Regions from separate parts of the Homo sapiens genome. Here region 1 is linked to region 2. Evidence: fine-mapped expression QTL. A gene starts in region 2. The other region holds a variant in brackets. All regions are shown on one strand. Distances are between the middles of the regions. Region 1 has its middle 32 kb from the start of TPBG. Region 2 holds the start of TPBG (trophoblast glycoprotein).

What was found. PIP is the estimated chance that this variant, and not a neighbour inherited with it, causes the effect.
Region 1: its variant is fine-mapped to the expression of TPBG in whole blood (INTERVAL, PIP 0.98).

The regions. Positions count from the first base shown.
Region 1 is chr6:82,394,276-82,397,181 of GRCh38, forward strand. No RefSeq gene overlaps it. Among named protein-coding and RNA genes, the nearest start is that of TPBG, 32 kb to the left of the region's middle. The variant G/A (reference allele first, on the strand shown) is at 1,526.
Region 2 is chr6:82,362,486-82,365,391 of GRCh38, forward strand. TPBG (trophoblast glycoprotein) reads left to right here and starts at 1,332. Exons shown (of 2, transcript NM_001376922.1): 1 at 1,332-1,423; 2 at 2,138-2,906. The coding sequence starts at 2,477. It overlaps LOC105377875 (a long non-coding RNA gene), which reads right to left and starts at 1,172. Exons shown (of 3, transcript XR_942738.4): 1 at 1,127-1,172. RefSeq lists enhancers at 765-1,278, 1,279-1,790, 1,942-2,844, 2,845-2,906 and a silencer at 2,813-2,892.

The DNA.
Region 1 (2,906 bases), 32 kb after region 2:
TTTAAGCACTTCTCTGTATTGGTTATTCTAGTTATACATTCTTCTAAATTTTTTTCAAAGTTTTCAACTTCTTTGCCTTTGGTTTGAATGTCCTCCCGTAGCTCAGAGTAATTTGATCGTCTGAAGCCTTCTTCTCTCAGCTCGTCAAAGTCATTCTCCATCCAGCTTTTTTCCGTTGCTGGTGAGGAACTGCGTTCCTTTGGAGGAGGAGAGGCGCTCTGCGTTTTAGAGTTTCCAGTTTTTCTGTTCTGTTTTTTCCCCATCTTTGTGGTTTTATCTACTTTTGGTCTTTGATGATGGTGATGTACAGATGGGTTTTTGGTGTGGATGTCCTTTCTGTTTGTTAGTTTTCCTTCTAACAGACAGGACCCTCAGCTGCAGGTCTGTTGGAATACCCTGCCGTGTGAGGTGTCATTGTGCCCCTGCTGGGGGGTGCCTCCCAGTTAGGCTGCTCGGGGATCAGGGGTCAGGGACCCACTTGAGGAGGCAGTCTGCCCATTCTCAGATCTCGAGCTGCATGCTGGGAGAACCACTGCTCTCTTCAAAGCTGTCAGACAGGGACATTTAAGTCTGCAGAGGTTACTGCTGTCTTTTTGTTGTCTGTGCCCTGCCCCCAGAGGTGGAGCCTACAGAGGCAGGCAGGCCTCCTTGAGCTGTGGTGGGCTCCACCCAGTTCGAGCTTCCCGGCTGCTATGTTTACCTAAGCAAGCCTGGGCAATGGCGGGCGCCCCTCCCCCAGCCTTGCTGCCACCTTGCAGTTTGATCTCAGACTGCTGTGCTAGCAATCAGCGAGACTCCGAGCCAGGTGTGGGATATAATCTCGTGGTGCGCCGTTTTTTAAGCCGGTCGGAAAAGCGCAATATTCGGGTGGGAGTGACCCGATTTTCCAGGTGCGTCCGTCACCCCTTTCTTTGACTCGGAAAGGGAACTCCCTGATGCCTTGCACTTCCCAAGTGAGGCAATGCCTCACCCTGCTTCGGCTCGCGCACGGTGCGCGCACCCACTGACCTGCGCCCACTGTCTGGCACTCCCTAGTGAGATGAACCTGGTACCTCAGATGGAAATGCAGAAATCACCCATCTTCTGCGTCGCTCACGCTGGGAGCTGTAGACCGGAGCTGTTCCTATTCGGCCATCTTGGCTCCTCCCCCGCAATTTTCCCATTTATAAAGTAGATCTTATAGTAGTATTTACCTCAGACTGTAATGACAGTTGAGTGAAATAGTGCATATAAAGTGCTTGGCATTAGAATGTGGTCAGTAAATATCTGTGTATCAGTTTCGTCCCCTGCCCACCTGATAAGCTCAATGATGACTTAAATTATATACTTACACCTCATCTATTTGGAAAATTATGTTGTTTTTAAAATTGTAATAATTAAAAATTTACAAGAGTATTAATATTTTTATGTAATACCTTTATTACATAAAAATATTTTATTTGTGCTCAGTTTAGCCCAACCCTATAGAATGTGATGAAGAGGTGGAACTACATTATGATCCTTATTTTTCAGTTGGGAAACCAAA[G/A]CAATGAAAAATTAATGAAATTGGCCAGAGTTGCACAAGACATAGCCTAATAGGAGTTAAGTATTTAAGTTAAGATTCCACAGATCTAGAACTTCATTTGAATGGGAGAAAAATTATATCATGAAGTGGTTGATACAGTTGATTCTATAAACAGGGCATTAAACACGTTGATTTGGAAAGCACTGAGTTTTCCTTCGCAGTTGTTTTTTATACTAATAATAGTAGAAAATTTTCCATATACCTTAAGTGCTTTCAAATTTATTTCTAGAATACTGACAGAAAAAAAAAAACACCTTACTTTTAAGTGATGGAGAGGTCTTTCAAAATATCATGCCACAGGGAAATAATATTTTTTCTTGGCACTTAATTCCAAGTAAATGCTTAGCTTAGCTTATGATACACATGTGGTGTTTCTCGAGGACTTTAACACTGTCGTTGTTGTCATGCATTTTCTCACACAGACATTGCACTCTATATTTTGTATAAAATTCTATTCTTAGCCATATATAAATTGCTACTTTGCTATTCACAATTTTGTTATATACAATTACTCAATTTTGGTTTCACCAAAATACATATTATTTGCCATTTTGTTGAAATATGCCCTGCAAGACAAAATATGCTTGCAGTTAGTAAGTATCTGACAGATTAAAACAATTTAAAAAAATCAATATGGTGGCCTAATTCCCTGGTCTGTTATTTAAATATCTTTTCACCTGATTAACCATTCTACATCTGCAGACCTATGGGAAGAATTCCTAATTTTATTCCATCTTCATTTACAGTAGGGACATAAATGTCTGTTGATCTTATCAAATTATTTTTAAGAATTTAGGGATTTTGTCAGAATCATTAATTCAGCCAACCTGGTTAGTCCATTTATACCATAGCCTCAGGTTTCCTATATCCACATATGCCATTCAGAATTACTAAGGCATGGAAAGCGTCTCACAAAAGAAAAACTTTTACATTATTTAAACAGTGTCGTATCCACAAAATAAACGATATGCTGTTCTTGGTTCACCAAGCAAGCACTTTGCCATCTCTGGGTCCCCAGTGAACAGCTACTCATTAAACCCAGATACATTTGGACATCAGACCCCCTCTCTAACAAGGAAAGGGGTCACCACAGGGAGGAATGCAGGCCTGCCAGTCAGAGTCATCTCCCACCAGAAACCTGCTTTAATGAGCATTTTCTTGCTTCTCAGGGCAATCCTCATGCTCTCACTGTGCTCTCAGCAAGAACACCTGGGATTCTTCAGCCTTGCCATGTGTGGAGAACAGCCCAAAAATAGGCCTGCTAAGACTTCCAAGATGGATTGCTAGACTTTGTGAGTCACCTCTGAAACCAAAAGCTCTGTGCTTTGTGATTTTTGTTTGC
Region 2 (2,906 bases):
TCTCTGCAGTTTCCAGTGTTTTCAGCTTTTGTCTGAGCCATTTTTGCTGTCGGCTTTGCAGACTATCTCTTTCTATAAAAGTAATCAGGCGTCCGTTGGAGAGTTGGGGTCTTTCTTCACACTAAAGGCACATGTCCCAGGCACAAGCCTCAGGATCCTTATTTGATCTTTTTTAATACGACCAGGTCTTAAATTTCCGAACCATGTTTTCCCTAATTGCCATTTTCTCTCTAAAATGAAGAAGCCTGGAAGAACCTTCTTATCCCTTCGGGGAAATTATTTAATTGGGACAAAGGGGATGTGGAGTTACAGAGAGCAACGATAGGGCTTTCAGAACCCAAAACCTGTCTGGTATAATAACAGATCCTTCCGGTAACCAACCATTCAATTTGTCCCTCTCCCCAACCCCATCCTCTCCATCACCATCTGCCAGATGCCCCCTGGGACAATCGACTTTGAAACCAAACTTCTCTCCCAGGTCAGCTCCTGCAATCCCCACTCCTCATCCTTGGAGCTTTCTCCACAGAAGTGACTTGACACACCGCGCTACATCTGGGGAGGGGGGCGGGTCCGCTTTCCGGGAGACTCAAGTCTTTGCTATTTGCCTTTTGTTTCTGGGATGCCTTTGGCTGCCTTTCTCTTCCATCTGCTTTTAATTTTGGTAAGAGAAAAGCTAATGAATCAGGAATGAATCTCCTCTCCACTAATCTTTTTTTTTTCTTTCTCTCTCTCTCTCTCTTAAAGTTGGCGCGCTCTCTTCACAAGTTCCATCACTACCCAAGAAGTGAGGGGGCGGGGGGGACAGGCGGGAAGGCATTAATTACACCTAAATCTGAAGTTTGCGGCCTCAAGTACCACTTTGATGGGGAGAGCTTCTGAAGCTTCCATACAACCTGCCGTGCCTTTGCTGCTGCCGCAGTAGATTTTCAGCTCATTTCTTTCTGCTGCTGCTTCGCGCTGCTCTGTCATGCCTAAATCTATCTCGTCACTGCCAAAGGTGCCTGAATCAGGGTGAATTCCACGAGATTCACCAGCGGTTTTGCTCCAGTCCAAGGTAAATACAGTATGCAAAATGAGGAACCACCCAAGGATGTCGGGGAGGGGGGAGAGAAAGGGATTCCCTCACCTTTTCCGGCACATTCCTCGTTAATTTCCACCAGGAGGAGGCGCGCAGCCCAGCTCCCCTAGTCTCTCTTCTTAAATCCCCCTACCTACGGCTGCCGAGGTTGGCCGCGCGTCGGGAATCTCCCCGACAGTCCTGGCCCTCCCCCGCCCCCCGGGTTGGTTTTTCCCAGCTGCGGAGGTTGGGAGGTTGGGCCAGGGGCTGGGGTGCGAAGAGAGTCGGCGCCCGCAACGCGGAGCCGGGAAGTCGTCGCTACTCTGGTGGAACTCAGAGTTGGTTCTGGAGGCGGCGGACGCGGAGGTGAGCAGTGGGAGCCCGCGGCCTGGGAGAGACCCGGGAGGCGTCGTTGGGGCCCCTCCCCATCCTCGGGTGGAGAGTAGGGTTGGTTCGGGTTGCCACTGTACCCCGAGTCCCACTGCTGCTTTGTTCCCAGACTCTCCCCTCCTCTTTGGAGATGACTTGAACCCCTTTGAGATCCGAGGGGCTGGCGGGGCGCGGGCTGGGGGGCGACAGTTGTAGCTCCACTTCCTGCTAATGCGAGAAGGTACAAAAAGAGATCAAAAAGTCCTGTAACCTGAAACTTCCCTCGCATCCTAACCGGGACCTGGTGGAGAGGTCTGGGCGGGGGCGGAGACACCCGGAGGCCGACCTTCCGCCGAGGCGGTGCAGGAAGGAACGGGAGAGGGAGAAGTTTGGTAGGGAAGGAATTGGGGATTAAGCGGTAAGTTAGACGCGGGAGACGAGTCTCCTCGGGAAAGGCGGAGGGCGGGAGGCCGGTCGGGTTTATTTAGTGTGGGCCAGGGAAGAAGGAAGACTTTGCGGTCTGGGTGTCGGATGCGCGTCCCCCTCCGGAGTAAAAGTGACCGGAGGGGTTGGGGAGGCGAGGCCGGGGCGGGCTTTTGGAAGGAGGTCTCTGGGACAGACTGGAGACGACTAGACTCGAAAAGGCCGGTTTTTGCACTCCGGAAGCCGCGGCAGCCACCGCTGTTCACGCCTCTCTCCTGCTTGTCCCAGGTCCCTCAGAGGATCCAGCGAGGGGCGCCAACAAGAGGCGAAGAGGTGGCACCAGGGCGGCGGCAGGAAGAGGAGCGGGAGCAGGAGCGCGGAGCGGAGCGTCCCGACCCGCCGTGCGTACTTTCTGGAGGGAAGGGGCGGGGGAATCGGCCCCTGAGGGAAGCGCCCGGTGGCGAGGGGGTTAGCCAAGTTCCGGCTGCGGCGCCACTCCCTCGGTTCCACGAGAGGAAAGTTTTTTTTTTCCAGACGCTTCCGCCGGCTCGCGCCCTCCGGGCCCAGCCTCCCGAGCCTTCGGAGCGGGCGCCGTCCCAGCCCAGCTCCGGGGAAACGCGAGCCGCGATGCCTGGGGGGTGCTCCCGGGGCCCCGCCGCCGGGGACGGGCGTCTGCGGCTGGCGCGACTAGCGCTGGTACTCCTGGGCTGGGTCTCCTCGTCTTCTCCCACCTCCTCGGCATCCTCCTTCTCCTCCTCGGCGCCGTTCCTGGCTTCCGCCGTGTCCGCCCAGCCCCCGCTGCCGGACCAGTGCCCCGCGCTGTGCGAGTGCTCCGAGGCAGCGCGCACAGTCAAGTGCGTTAACCGCAATCTGACCGAGGTGCCCACGGACCTGCCCGCCTACGTGCGCAACCTCTTCCTTACCGGCAACCAGCTGGCCGTGCTCCCTGCCGGCGCCTTCGCCCGCCGGCCGCCGCTGGCGGAGCTGGCCGCGCTCAACCTCAGCGGCAGCCGCCTGGACGAGGTGCGCGCGGGCGCCTTCGAGCATCTGCCCAGCC